Linked DNA regions of Homo sapiens: all the other regions are linked to region 2. The links come from fine-mapping of genetic effects on gene expression. A gene starts in region 2. Each other region holds a variant in brackets. All regions are shown on one strand. Distances are from middle to middle.

What was found. PIP is the estimated chance that this variant, and not a neighbour inherited with it, causes the effect.
Region 1: its variant is the best candidate, but not a certain one, in a credible set for the expression of ERCC3 in tibial nerve (GTEx, PIP 0.88).
Region 3: its variant is the best candidate, but not a certain one, in a credible set for the expression of ERCC3 in NK cells (Schmiedel 2018, PIP 0.79).

Annotation. Positions count from the first base shown.
Region 1 is chr2:127,327,117-127,332,345 of GRCh38, reverse strand. It overlaps MAP3K2 (mitogen-activated protein kinase kinase kinase 2), which reads left to right. Exons shown (of 17, transcript NM_001371910.2): 6 at 1,841-1,954; 7 at 2,338-2,425. Among named protein-coding and RNA genes, the nearest start is that of ERCC3, 36 kb to the right of the region's middle. The variant T/C (reference allele first, on the strand shown) is at 2,824.
Region 2 is chr2:127,291,447-127,296,675 of GRCh38, reverse strand. It overlaps ERCC3 (ERCC excision repair 3, TFIIH core complex helicase subunit), which reads left to right and starts at 2,532. Exons shown (of 15, transcript NM_000122.2): 1 at 2,532-2,622; 2 at 2,958-3,163; 3 at 3,830-4,066. The coding sequence starts at 2,595.
Region 3 is chr2:127,392,296-127,397,524 of GRCh38, reverse strand. The region is part of intron 3 of MAP3K2-DT (MAP3K2 divergent transcript); the gene reads right to left. Among named protein-coding and RNA genes, the nearest start is that of MAP3K2, 6.9 kb to the right of the region's middle. The variant G/AG (reference allele first, on the strand shown) is at 2,094.

The DNA.
Region 1 (5,229 bases), 36 kb before region 2:
ATCCAGTTATAAATGAATAATAAAAGTAAGTATTCAGATTTTCCCCTCAAATGAAAAATCGGCGGAACAGTCATTACCATTGCTTTAAAATGTTTTCCAGTGCTTGAAAAGTAATAGACTATTGAAGATAGAAGCAAGATATACCAATATGTTTCATAATTGGTGGGAAATAGAAATGTGTTTAAGTAGATCAGTAGATCAGGCTTGTTCTATGATACCAAACAGTTAATAATTGTATTTTATTAGAAAAAAATTCTCATAGAGCGAAAAGAGCCCAGTTAGTCGGTCCCTTACAGTAATACAAAATTAGCTACAAACAGAAATTGGGAATATATTTTAACAACAGAGTAAGTAAATGCAAGCAGATTGTCTGATGGAATTCACATAAATCCTTCTTTATATTCGTGTTTGGCAGCCTTTCTTATAACAAGGACTTTTTTGGCTGGGCATGGTGGCTCACGCCTGTAATCCCAGCACTTTGGAAGGCCCAGGCGGGCAGATAATTTGAGGTCAGGAGTTTGAGACCAGCCTGGTCAACATGTTGAAACCCTGTCTCTGCTAAAAATACAAAAATTAGCCACGCGTGGTGGTGCATGCCTGTAAACCCAGCTACTGGGGAGGCTGAGGCAGGAGAATCACTTGAAACCAGGAGGCAGATTGCAGTGAGCTGAGATTGCCACTGTACTCCAGCCTGAATGACAGTGAGACTCCATTTCAAAACAAAAAATCAAAAACCCCAAGGACTTTTTTCACAAAGAAGTCTGCAGAATGAACATACACCATGCCAGCTAGTGGGTTTGGGTTCAGATTGAGCTTTTAACACTGTGAGATTTATTAGACAGCATTTACCAGGTTGTCTGCTCTTTGCTCATTGCTGGTGTAGGGGGTCCTTGTCTTCAAAGAATTTATACTGTAGAGACCCCAAATTAATTCAGCCTTGCATTTTAATGGCTCATATATTGTGCTGAGTAGAGCAGGTTAACTAGTGCAGAATATGTTCACTTGTTTTTATTCTGTTCCTCCTTCAATGAAATGGAATATACTTTGAAGTTATTGACAGAGTCTTCTTAAGTTACTAAATTGACTTTTTTTTTAAAAAAAGGACATATTTTTATTTCTTAAATTGTATGAATTACACTTTTTCTCATAGACCTCTTAGGTGCTTTTGTCCTCTATAACATCTGCTGCATGAGAAGACTAGTGAAAGCAGATTCCACATGCAGGGTTTACTATGGAATAGTTAACTCATTAGCTTATTTGTTTTAGGGTATAGTGGTCAGGTCACTAGGCTCAGAGAGAAGAACTCTAGGTGGGCTGTAGATTGCAGATATGTTACTAGTGGTACCCCTCCATGGCAGCTGTCCTCCATGGCAGGTGCTCAGGATGTTGGTATGTTGAAGAGCACACCAGCTGAGAGTGCAAATTTGTGGTTACTATTGAAAAAAGAACTGAGTTTCATCTATACAGAAGAAAAGTAGTACCTTTATTTCATATGGTCTTTGTCTGTACTTCTTCATTCTTTTTAGGGGCGAACATACTATAACTTAAATTTAGCAATATTATGGAAATATCCTAGAAAATTAATCTTTAAATGTTATTTTCTAGAAGAATGTAATGATTAATAAAGAAAAATTTAAAAACATACATGTTCATTCTAAGATTTTAGTGGCGGTAGAATGAGGAGGGCAAAACAATATACACATACACATTCAGACTTTCATCATAGTAACAAATCAAAGAGCAAGGTATTTTGACATTTGTAATTCCTTAGTAGTGGAGATGCTCATGGAAGAACTTGACCTGGTGAGATAGCTGCATGGTTCCTTATGTTTGTTTTTAGTTGGTAATTCCATTAACTACTCAAGATGACTTGGACAAAGCTGTGGAACTGCTGGATCGTAGTATTCATATGAAGAGCCTCAAGATATTACTTGTAATAAATGGAAGTACACAGGTATGATTTGGGATATTTTTTTCAGTAAGAATTATAGGACTTAGGCTTGTAAAAGTTAACATATGAAACATAATTATATTCTATAATCATTGCAATATTTTCATTATGATTAAATGTAAACTTACATCCTTTAATTACTATACTTTAATATCCTTACTCCTCAAAAACCACAGTCATAGTTATAAATAAGTATAATATGTTGTACATACGAAGCTAATAGAAACTGACAACTTAGAATTATGTTAGAATTAAAATTTCAAAGAGTAGAGGATTTGATTAAGGCTCACAAACAATATAAAATGTTTTGTACTTGGTAGGGGAGAGGATTCTGTTTAAAGCCCCAAGGAGGAAGAATAGCATTAACTGTCTTTTCTCCTTTGTAGGCTACTAATTTAGAACCATTGCCATCACTAGAAGATTTGGATAATACAGTATTTGGAGCAGAGAGGAAAAAACGGCTATCTATAATAGGTAAGAAACTAGTGTCTGAATTATGAAATGAATGATTTCTCAATTTCTTCTCCATCCTTTAATGTAGTGTGGCACCTAAACATATTCCTGATAAATAATATTTTATTTCTCTACTTCCTATAATTTAATTTAAATACACTCTAATATTTGACGTCCCTTGGAAATTCAAGTTTACAGGATTAGTAATCTCCAATTTAAATTCTTTATTTATATACTCAGGGTATTTTAATGTTAACAAATTCAAATAAAACTTTAAAGAGGTTTTAGGCTGGGCGCGGTAGCTCATGCCTGTAATCCCAGCACTTTGGGAGGCCAAGGCGGGCAGATCACAAGGTCAAGAGATCGAGACCATCCTAGCCAACATGGTGAAACCCCATCTCTACTAAAATTACAAAAAT[T/C]AGCTGGGCGTGGTGGTGCATGCCTGTAGTCCCAGCTACTCAGGAGGCTGAGGCAAGAGGATTGCTTGAACCCGGGAGGCGGAGGTTGCAGTGAGCCGAGATTGTGCCACTGCACTCCAGCCTGGCGACAAAGCAAGACTCCATCTCAAAAAAAAAGGTTTTAATTGTACAAATAGAATGGAGGAAAAAAATTAAAAGAAGTAATTATAATGTATTAAAATTAATAGAGTGTAAATTCACAAGCCTTTCTCTAGGGTTTTAGTGATTGCCAAGAATGCTCTCAAAATAAAGATACTAAGAATTTTTATATTATGCTTTATTATTACTTTATTAGTATTCATTTTCATTTGCCATTAATTTATTGTTATAATTAAGATTATGATATAAAGAAATAAAGATCTTGCATGCTGTAGTTTAAGGAGGCTTTATTCGTGCAACATGAGTTTGACACAGGTACTCTCAACTCCCCATTCTGTCTGTTCTTCAATTTGTATAAAACATTGATAATCTACATTTTTATTTGATAAAAGCATTAACATTGTTTCAAAAAACCGCTGGTATAAATGTTCTTTGAGAGAGGGCAGTGAGTATGGCCATTAAAGATGGCATGAAAACATGTATGAGGGGCGGATTTAAAAGAGAAAAGTTAAAGAGGAGGAAAAACAAATGTGGTTGGGAATCTAAAAAAGATTGGTAACAGAAGAGGATTGTTGATAATCAAAGAAAAAATTGAATTGGCATGTGGACCATCAAAAAAATAGACATTATTCATGTTCTCTTTTGGTCCCCAGAAGAAGCTATTTTATGACCATTCTCTTCGAAGTGTCTGTCTTAAATAAGTCCTACTTTGGGTTTCAGGAATGCAGAAATGCGAGCAGCAGAGGTGATACACAAGCAAAATACAAATGGCTTGTCTTTTGCATTCAGATATATTTCGATATAGTTTTAAAATTTGGTGAAAGAACATTTGAAACACCCAAATTCAAATTCCAGCTCTCTGATGAACCTGAGACCAGTAAATGTGTCTTCATCTTTAAATCATGGGATTGTTGTAGCATTAAATTGAGAGAACACTTGTACATTTTACTTTTCAAACTAGAAAGCTTATTGTACATTTATACATTTTGTACATTGTACAAAGCTCAGATGTTCATTGTACATTTCTTTCTTTATCCCCATTTCTTATCACATTACGGTACTTGTCATTTTTTAAAAAATTGCTAATTCACTTTATTTTATTTATTTTTTGAGACAGAGTCTCACTCCGTCACCCAGGCTGGAGTACAGTGGCGCGGTCTCAGCTAACTGTAACCGCTGCCTCCTGGGTTCAAGTGATTCTCCTGCCTCAGCCTCCTGAATAACTGAGATTACAGGCGCCCGCCACCATGCCTGGCTAATTTTTATATTTTTAGTAGAGATGGGGTTTCAGCCTGTTAGCCAGATTGGTCTCGAACTCCTGACCTCATGTGATCCACCCACCTTGGCCTCCCAGAGTGCTGGGATTACAGGCGTGAGCCACAGTGCCCAGCTCTAATTCACTTTAGTTGCATTAGACAAAACAAGCTAAATGTACTAGTTAAATTGACATTTTAAATATATTTTGAATTAAAATTACACTGAATACCTCAGTCTTATTCTAATAAATATTCTTGTTTGACGTCAGTGCCAGCATAAGAAGAAATTGGAAATCATAAAGTATAGAATTAGTGGTCTTTTATTGGCACTGCTTTAAACTTGGAATGGCTTTGCTAGATATGACCATTATCTATTTTTCTTATATGTTGGCAGTTATTCTTTTTAATTGTTTTTATAAAAGGGAGATGGAGGAAAAACTCCTTTAGGTTAGGAGTGTATGCTGATAAACAGGTCTCAACCAAGAGTGCGTTGGCATACGCATTACTGTGAAAAAGGGTTGTCAAATAAGGAGACAAAATTTTCATAGCTTTTTTTTTTTTTTGGTCCTATCTCCTTTTAGTAATTGACTATATTGATCTTTTGTAAGCACGGGTATATGGAAGGAATAAAAATATTAGGGACCAGTATTATTGTGGCTACAGTTGTTATGAAGCCTAAATCAATCCTGACTCAAATTGAGCTCCTAATCATTTTACAGACAAGTGTAGACAGTACTCTCTTTTATGCACATGTCTTGGTAATAATTTTGCTTTCTTTTTCCTCCCTGTCTCACTAACAAATGCTTGCATATACTCACAATGACTCCTTTACATAAGGCTAAAATGTTTTTTGCTTTAAATTGGACCAGAACTTAAATGCTCACATAGTTTAATTTCAAAAAACTATGAGGAAAGGTGAGACACTGTACTAATAAATATAGCATCATTTCCACAGAACCAAGTAAAATAGAGTGGGTTATTGTCTCATAAGAAATGTGATTACTTAAATAAA
Region 2 (5,229 bases):
ATCTCAACATCAACAAAAGTCAGTCATTCTAGCATCAACTCAAAGTCCAGTATCATCTAAATATCAGTTCAAATCTCATCACCCAAATCATCCACATCAATTGACTCTGGGTTAGGTTTCCTGTTGGAGCAAATTTTCTTTCTATCTATGAACCCATGAGAACAGACAAGTTATCTGCTTCCAATTACAATGGTATAGGCAGAGGATAGACACATTCCATTCCAAAAGGGAGAAATGGGAAGGAAAAAGACTTGGAGGTGCCAAGAAAGTCTGACACCTAACAGGGCCAATGACAGGATTTTAAGGCTTGAGAATAATCCTCACTGGCTTGATCCTCTGTCCTCAGGGCCCACTGGGGTTGCAGCCCCGCACCCTCAGAACTGAGGAGGTGGTGGCCGTGGGTTCAAACCCAAGCCTGTCCCTTTCAGTCCTGTGGTGGCGGAAGCAGCCTCACTGGCCTCTGAACTGCCCCTGCCAATCCCTTTCCTACCTGTGGAATCCTGGGAGTCCAACAGCCTTCCTTCATTTCATCCCATCTATGTACCCTAGTCAAAACTGTCCAGGTTTCTGTGGAGATGGGTGATTGGGTCTATAAGCCACACACCTAATCTCTTGCAAATAAATGGTTGTCCACATCCTTAGTGTTTCTCCAGAGCATACTTTCTCTCTCTCTTTTTTTTTTTTTTTTTTTTTTTTTTTTTTTTTTTTACAATGTGAGTATAAGAATGATCCAAATCTTCAAGTTCTGGTTCCTTTTTGTTGAATAATTCCACCTTCAGTGTATCTCTTCTCACATTTCACTATAAGCAATAAGGAGAAAGCAGGCCTCAGTTTTTTTTTTTTTTTTTTTTGAGACGGAGTCTTGCTCTGTTGCCCAGGCTGGAGTGCAGTGGCGTGATCTCTGCTCACTGCAACTTCTGCCTCCTGAGTTCAAGAGATCCTCCTGCCTCAGCCTCCTGAGCAGCTGAGACTACAGGCGCGCGACACCACGCCCAGCTAATTTTTGTATTTTTAGTAGAGACGGGGATTCACCATATTGGCCAGGCTGGTATTGAACTCCTGACCTTATGATCCCCTGCCTCGGCCTCCCAAAGTGCTGGGATTACAGGCGTGAGCCACCGCGCCTGGCCCAGGCCTCACTTTGAACCATCATGTAGAAATTTCCTCAGCAAAATGTCCAAGCTTATCACTTATAAGTTCTACTTTCCACCCAACAGAATACAATTCAGGCAAGCTCTCTACCACTTGCCTCCAGTTTCAATAACATATTTCTCCTTTCCATCTGAGCCGTCACCAGAATCACCTTTAATGCCCATACTTCTACCAAGGCTCTTCAAGACAATAGAGGCTTTTCTATCATGCGCCTCAAAATTCTTTCAGCCTCTACCGATTACCCAATTTGAAAACCACTTCCCCATTGTTAGGTATTTGTTACAGCAGTACCCTATTCCCCGTACCAAAAATCTGTGTTACGTTCTCCAGAGAAACAGAACCAAGAGGCCCACTGAGCAAGCGAGATTGATTGATTGATTTTAAAGAATTGGCTCATGCAATTGTGGGGGTTGGCAAGTTGGGAATTCAGGTACGAGTTGATGTTGTAGTTTTGAGTCCAAAGGCTGGAAACTCAGTCAGAACTTTCTGTGTTGCAGTCTGGAGGCAGAATTCCTTTTTCCTTGAGAAACCTGTCTTTGCTCTTAAGGCCTTCAACTGATTTGGATGAGGCCCACCCGCATTATTGAGGGTAATCTGCTTTATTTAGGCTGAGACATGAGAATGGCATGAACCCGGGAGGCGGAGCTTGCAGTGAGCTGAAATCGCGCCACTGCATTCCAGCCTGGGCGACAGGGCGAGACTCCGTCTCAAAAAAAAAAAAAAAAAAAAGAAAAAAATTTTTTTTGAGACGAACTCTCGGCCTGTCGCCCAGGCTGTAGTGCAGTGGTGCAATCTCAGCTCAGTGCAGCCTTTACCTTCTGGGTTCAAGAGATTCTCCCATCTCAGCCTCCCAAGTAGCTTAGACTACAGGCGTGTGCCACCATGCCTGGCTACTTTTTTTTGTATTTTTCGCAGAGATGGGGTTTCACCATGTTGGCCAGGCTGGCCTCGAACTCCTGACCTCAAGTGATCCACCCACCTCAGCCTCCCAAAGTGCTGGAATTACAGGCGTGAGCCACCGTGCTCAGCCAAATTTTTTTTAATTAAAAAAAAGAATTCTTCCTTACCCATGGACTCAGGTCACATTCTCTCTCTCTCTCTCTCACACACACATTTATTGCCCACATGGCTTCATTAAAATTTAAGTTCCAGAAGGATGAGGCCTTTAATTCGCGCACTACACAGGTGCTCAACACACAGTATTTTCCTTCAGTTGTAGAGAAATGAACAGTGGAGGACCCCCGCCGCTGGGTCGCACGAGCTAACAGATCGGCGGTCGCTGGCTCTCCGCTCTTCCAGCCACCCACATCACGGCGCCTAGAGGCGGGACATCCTGTGTGGACAACAGGGAGCTTCCGGATTGAGCCGGAAGTCCCCCCAGAGCGGATGCCGCGGCGGGCCTGTGGGAGCGGGGTCATCTTCTCTCTGCTGCTGTAGCTGCCATGGGCAAAAGAGACCGAGCGGACCGCGGTGAGACGTTGCGCGGGCACGCTCAGCCACGACTGCCCTTGCCGGCCCTGCCCCCCGCTCTGCCTCGGAGCTGCTCCGGGCCTCTGCGCCGGCCGACCCTGCTGGCCCTCCCGCGCGCACCCCGTTGGGACAGGCCTTTGGGCGGGAGAGATGCTGGACCTGGGCGCAGCCCAGCGAACTCGGCCTAGGGGAGACGGGTGAGGGGCGCAACGCCTGCGGGATGCAGGTGGCTCTTAGCTAGGAGTTTGCGGCGGCGCAGGTGAAATGCTGCCAAGCGGTGCGGAGGGAACCCTGAAGGCTCCTGCTGGGCTTACTTCTGTGTTGGTATCTTGCAGACAAGAAGAAATCCAGGAAGCGGCACTATGAGGATGAAGAGGATGATGAAGAGGACGCCCCGGGGAACGACCCTCAGGAAGCGGTTCCCTCGGCGGCGGGGAAGCAGGTGGATGAGTCAGGCACCAAAGTGGATGAATATGGAGCCAAGGACTACAGGCTGCAAATGCCGCTGAAGGACGACCACACCTCCAGGCCCCTCTGGGTGGTAAGCATGCCCTTAGCTTGGGCAGGGCCCAGGAGTGTGCGGAGCGGCAGCTAAATCTTGGGCATCCTCAGAGTCAAAACTGACATTCAGGATACTGCCCCTAGAACTGGCCGGGAGAGAATTTTCATCCACACACGTTGGAACAGCCCAAGGCAACAGCGAGCAGTTGCGCACACGTGTGGCGGCCGGACCTGGGCTTCCAACAGCTCTAACCCCTCGGTTTACTCTCACTCCTTCCCCAGCCCTACCCCATGTAGTGAATCCTTTTATCTGCCGAATAAATAGCATTTATCATGTAACAGTTTGTTTCCTCAAATAATGGAAGACATGTTCGGTAGCAAGCTTTTGCTCTACTTTAAATAATTAATGTTATACATTTAGTTGAAATCTAGCCAAAAGGTAACTTGAGGATAGCCAGTAAGATGGGCTTTCTCTGTGCAGAATAGTAGGAAACAGCTGTTGACTTTGGAAACACTTTCTTCTATTTTTCTTTACTCTTCTGTATCTGATTAATGTAACAGGCCCCACAGTTGTCTGAAGGAGTGCTTGCAAGAATATCTGTGGTGTTGGGCAGCTTATTCTTTCTTGATAATGATATGGGCAAGAGCCCAGTAGTCTCTGCAACTCATGTTTCCTTGTCTGTTTTGTCCATTTGGTATCTCTCAGGCTCCCGATGGCCATATCTTCTTGGAAGCCTTCTCTCCAGTTTACAAATATGCCCAAGACTTCTTGGTGGCTATTGCAGAGCCAGTGTGCCGACCAACCCATGTGCATGAGTACAAACTAACTGCCTACTCCTTGTATGCAGCTGTCAGCGTTGGGCTGCAAACCAGTGACATCACCGAGTACCTCAGGAAGCTCAGCAAGACTGGAGTCCCTGATGGAATTATGCAGTTTATTAAGGCAAGTGACAGCTGAGACCAGCAATTCCACCTGCCCTGCTAATGTAACAATAGGCATAGGTGCTCCATGTTGTCAGCCTGTGGCAGCCATGAGAATGTGCCATTCAGATTTCCTGTGGGGAGCATAACGACTGATTACCCCAGCCGCTACACTCTGGATCCAGCATTGTGTTCTGGGTGAGGCCATGCTTCTCATGAGCCGCTACACTCTGGATCCAGCATTGTGTTCTGGGTGAGGCCACGCTTCTCATGAGCCGCTCCCAGCTGTGGGTATTAACACAGAGGGGCTACTAATTCAGGCCCATTGTAGCCAGGGAGAATTTGGAAATGCAGCCCAAAGTGAGTGTGCTGGGGACTGAATTGTGTGTGTTCCCCTCAAATTTTGTCTTCAAAACCTAATATCCAATGGTAATGTATTTGGAGTAAGAAAGTAGTTAAGACTAAATGAGGTCGTGATCCGCTATGATTAGTGTCCTCCTAAGAAGAGACACCGGAGCATGCTTTCTCTCACCTGCCCTTCTTGTCATGTGAGTACACAATGGGAAGGTGGTCCATAGACAAGAGCCTTCACCAGAAACTGAATCGGCTGATACCTTGATCATAGACTTTCAGCCTCCACAGCTCTGAGAAAATACAGTTCTAATGTTGAAGCCACCCAGTCTGGAATTTTATTATGGCAGCCCAAGCTGACTAACACAGGTGGTAAACTCTGTCTAAAGCTAAGTATCTGCAGGAGACCAATAGTCAACAAGTTCCATGAGGGAAAGTCAAAAACAACTTCAGATGTTTTTGACAAAACAAAGAGGGTTCCATGTGATTAATAGTTGAACATGCTAGGTTTCTTCTGCGAGATGGGTGAATGCCATTTAAAAGAGATGGACAGTGGCTTTCATTGCCTTTGGCTGATCCAAAAGGAGTCAGATTCAGACCTTGGGATCTGGAGTGGCAGAAGAGTGCCACAGGAATTCAGTATGGTACTGCAGCCAGTCCCAGAGAAGCTGCAGGAGTCCTGGAGAGAACTCTCTTTTCCTGTGATGTGAAAGCGTGCCCGGCCAGGTGCAGTGGCTCACTCCTGTAATCCCAGCACTTTGGGTGGCTGAGGTGGGTGGACCACCTGGGGTCAGGAGTTCAAGACCAGCCTGGCCAACATGGCGAAATTCCTGT
Region 3 (5,229 bases), 100 kb before region 2:
TTGGGGCCTGGTGACAGCCACCTGACCTTTCTCTGCCACTTTTTCCTTATATGTGAATTGAAAATTATGGGAAGACAATAAGATAATTAAACAGGAGAAAGGGAAGAAACAGACAATTCTCTTCTTGCTGTCAAGACAAAGACACTGGAAGTAAGGAGTGGACCATCAGACCATTAGGGGGATGCTGCAGTGGTGGAGAACATAAGTAGGCTCCCAGCAAATAGCCAACTTCCGAAAAATGGGTTATCCTTGTTAGCAATTTGGCATTTTTTTAAAAAAAATTTATCAATAAATAATAACTTTTATTTTGAGAAAGAGTCTCACTCTGGTGCCCGGACTGGAGTACAGTGGCACAATCACAGCTCACTGCAACCTCTGCCTCCCAGGCCCAGGCTTTTTTTTTTTTTTTTTTTTTTTTTTTTGTAGAGACAGGGTTTTACCATGTTGCCCAGGCTGGTCTCCAACTCTATAGCTCAAGCAATCCGCCTGCCTCGACCTCCCAAAGTACTGGAATTACAGGCATGAGCCACTGTGCCCAGACAATACATAATAATTGTACATATTTATCAGGTACATGTGATATTTTGATACATGCATACAATGTGCAATGACCAAATCAGGGTATTTAGGATATCTACCGCTTTGAACATTTATCATTTCTTTTTGTTAGAAACTTTCAGAACTTTTATTCTAACCATTTCAATATATATATTATTGTTAACTATAGTCACCCTACTGTGCTATCAAACACCAGAACTTACTCCTTCTATTTAATTGTATGTTTGTACCCATTAACCAACCTCTCTTTTTTCCCTCGTCCTCCTCACCGCTCACCCTTCCCAGCCTCTGGTAACTATCATTCTACTCTCTACCTCCATGAGATCAAATGTTTTATTAGCTCCACATATCAGTGAGAACATACAATATTTTTCCTTCTGTGCCTTGAGTATTTCACTTAACATAATGATCATCCGTGTTGCTACAAATAACAAGATTTCATTGTTTTCAATGGCTTCATAGTATTCCATTGTGTATATATACCACATTTTCTTTTCTTTTTTTTTTTTTGAGACGGAGTCTCGCTCTGTCGCCCAGGCTGGAGTCCAGTGGTGTGAACTTGGCTCACTGCAAGCTCTGCCTCCCGGGTTCACGCCATTCTCCTGCCTCAGCCTCCCGAGTAGCTGGGACTACAGGCACCCGCCACAATGCCTGGCTAATTTTTTTGTATTTTTAGTAGAGTCGGGGTTTCACCGTGTTAGCCAGGATGGTCTCGATCTCCTGACCTTGTGATCCGCCCACCTCAGCCTCCCAAAGTGCTTGGATTACAGGCGTGAGCCACCGCGCCCGGCCCACATTTTCTTTACTCATTCAACTCTTGATGAACACTTGGGTGATTCCATATCTTGGCTATTGTGAATAGTGCTGCAATAAACATGGGAATGCAGCTATCCCTTTGATATACTGATTTCCTTTATTTTGGATAAATACCCAGTAGTGAGATTGCTGGATCATATGGTAGTTCCATTTTGAGTCTTTTGAGAAATCTCCATACTGTTTTCCACAGTGGTTGTACTAATTTACATTCTACCAACAGTGTATAAGAGTTTCCTTTTCCGGCTGGGCGTGGTGGCTCACGCCTGTAATCCCAGCACTTTGGGAGGCTGAGGTGGGTGGATCACCAGGTCAGGAGATCGAGACCATCCTGGCCAACATGGTGAAACCCCGTCTCTACTAAAAGTACAAAAATTAGCTGGGCATGGTGGCACGTGCCTGTAATCCCAGCTACTCAGGAGGCTGAGGCAGGAGAATTTGCTTGAACCTGGGAGGCGGAGGTTGCAGTGAGCTGAGATTGTGCCATTGCACTCCAGCCTGGACAACAGAGCGAGACTTCAACTCAAAAAAAAAAAAAAAAAAAAGCCTACAAAAATTAGCCAGGGATGGTGGCACACACCTGTAATCCCAGCTACCTGGGAGGCTAAGGTGAGAGAATCACTTGAACCTGGGAGGTGAGGGTTGCAGTGAGCCGAGATGACACTACTGCACTCCAGCCTGGGTGACAAAGCGACACCCTGTCTCAAAAAAAAAAAAAAAAA[G/AG]AAAAAAGAAACTACTTATGCCATGTGAAGTGAAAACTGTAAGATACAAAATTGCATGTATAGGACAGATCACAACTATTAATACCTAAGAACGATTTAAAAACGTATCTAAAAATAAAAAAATACCAGCACAACAAAGATTTACGAATAGAGAAAAAATTGAATAGAAACAGAACTATAGAAGGAATGAGCTTTTTCTTTTCCTCCTGTTTTCCATATTTTCTATTATAAATATGTGTAACAATGGAAAATATATAACAAACATAATGTTAAAGTAAGAAGTTAATGTACTAGCAACTGATGGATAAAAGAATTAGAGCTGATCAAGATCACAGAGAATTCAAGACAACTGTCTGTTAGAAATCTTGTCACATTGCCTCTTTCCACACTTAGAAAACTTTGTGGGCATTCCACACAGCAGAAATCCCAGAAATAACTTTTGTTTGGCTGTGGCAGCACTGTGAACTTTTAAAAATCAGATTTACTAATGTTTTGCTTCTTGTAACAGTGAAGTGGCCCTGGGGATAATCATAATAGATTTGTGGAACATCATTTATATATGGGGTAGGCCCTACAGTCCACTCTGGTCCCCCAAGTCTTGCCTCTCCATGAGCTTCTCAGAGCCAACACAGTTGGCTGCTAGGCAACAACCATCCATCTCTCAGCTCCTTTGTAACCTAATCCGGCTTCTGCTTAGATATAGCCAGGCAGTGTGCCCAGCCCCCGGTGGTCCTCGTGTGGGCTGAACCCATCATGGTGATCCTGACTTCTATGCATGCATAACCATGTGACCCAACTCCAGCCAACAAGATACTATTAGCAGTCAGTTCAGCTACCAGGGACAGTCATTTACATCTCCCATGAGAAACTACACAGCCCTGTGGTCCAGATTAGGGAGGGGATTCTGCTCCCAGAGCCACCATTCCTGTGTATGCCCCATGTCCTGACTCTCCAAGATGGCCTGCAAGTACTCCAGTGTGGGAGGAAGGGACGAGGAAAGATGTAAAAGCAGTAGTCTCTTAAGAAAGGGACTCTCAGTGAAGGTCCCTGGATGGACACACTTCAGTTGACTTCCCTTTTGCCATTACTTAGTCACCTGGTCACATTTAGCTGCAAGGGAGGCTAGGGAATGAACTCTTTATTATGAGAGTCCTATATGCTCAGATAAAATTTGATTACAATGGGAAGAGGAGAATGAATTTGGGGGCACAATTAGCAGACATTGCTGCAAAAACAAAATGGGTAGTCTTCTGGGAGGCTGATGGGAAACACTATTTTTTTTTTTTTGAGACAGAGTTTCACTCTTGTTGCCCAGGCTAGAGTGCAATGGCATGATCTCAGCTCACTGCAACCTCCGCCTCCCAGGTTCAAGCAATTCTCCTACCTCAGCCTCCTGAGTAGCTGGGATTACAGGCATATGCCACCATGCCCAGCCAATTTTTTGCATTTTTAGTAGAGATGGGGTTTCTCCATATTGGTCAGGCTGGTCTTGAACTCCTGACCTCAGGTGATCCACCTGCCTCGGCCTCCCAAAGTGCTGGGATTACAGGTGTGAGCCACTGCGCCTGGCCCTGGAAATACTATCCTTAATGAAAAGAGAATCCTTAGCACACCTAGCACCAGATATTGGTCTCTAACACCATTCTCCAACAAAAGAAACCAGGGCCCTTTGGAAAAATGGCTGATTCTAGACTGGGACAGGAAATATTCAAGATGATTTTGGAGCGCTGGCAGTGCCAGAAAGCAAAGAAGTGCTGAAAAAGGAAAAAAAAAATCATAATGATGGGTGTCAAAGGGACACAGGAGACAAATCAAAGAGCTACCAATGGCCAAACCCAGAATAATTAGAGCAACAAAATAAGTAATGTAGTATTAGATTATAACCCAGAGCATAAGTTATATACCCACAATTCTATATTAATATAAATAAAAGATTACATAAGTAAACAGGAGAGAAGAGACAGATCTCACATGCAGAAGAATTCCTAGTAATTTATGCAGATACTTCACACACAAGGAGGTGGAGCATAGCTCCCCACTCCTTAGGTGTGGGCTGAGCATAGTGACTTCCTTGCAAAGAGTATAGTATGGAAAGAGGTGAATAAAGAGTAGCTTTATGGGGGAGAAACCTGACAAACACTATCTCAGGCAGGTGATCAAGCTCAACACCAAGTCATAAATCATACTGACAGTATATACCTGCTATGGTTTGAATATGTCCCCCAAAGGTCATGTTTTGGAAACTTGATCCCCAATGCAACAATGTTAGGAGGTAGGACCTTTAAGAGGTGTTTAAGTTATGATTAAGTTATGAGGGGAGAGCCGTCATGAATGGATTAATGTCATTATCTAGGGTGGGCACCTTATAAAAGGATGAGTTTGACTCTTCTTGCTCTTTCTCTCATCTTCTCTTTGCCCTTCCCCCACAGGATGACACAGCAAGAAGGTTCTTGCCAGATGTGGGCCCCTCAATCTTGGACTTCCCAGCCTTCAGAACTGTGAGAGATAAATTTCTGTTCATTACACATTACCCAGTCTGTGGTATTTTGTTACAGGGCACAAAATGGACTAAGACAATGGACTACCTTTGATAGGATGTGATAAAGATGGCACTTTACTTCAGTGGTCTCCTTCCCCAGAACCCATAACCTCAGTGTCATCATGAGAAAAACATTACATGATTCACAATTGAAGAATATTCTACCAAACACCTAACCAGTATTCCTTAGCACAAGGCCATCAAAAACAAGGGAACTCACAGCCAAGAGAAGCCTAAGGAGACGTGATGACTAAGCATAGTGTGGGCTCCTGGAACACAAAAAGGGCATTAGGAAAAAACTGAGGACATCTGAATAAAGTATGGACTTCAGTTAATGACAATGCATCAATATTGGTTCACTAGTTATGACAAATGTACTATACTAATAATACAAGTTCGTAATAATAGGTGTATTAGTCTGTTCTCACATTGCTATAAAGAACTACCTAAGACTGGGTAATTTAAGAGGAAAAGAGGTTTAATTGACTCACAGTTACACAGGCTGTACAGAAAGCAAGGCTGGGAGGCCTCAGGAAACTTCAATCATGATGGAAAGTGAGGGGGAAGCAGGCACATCTTACCATGGCAGAGCAGGAG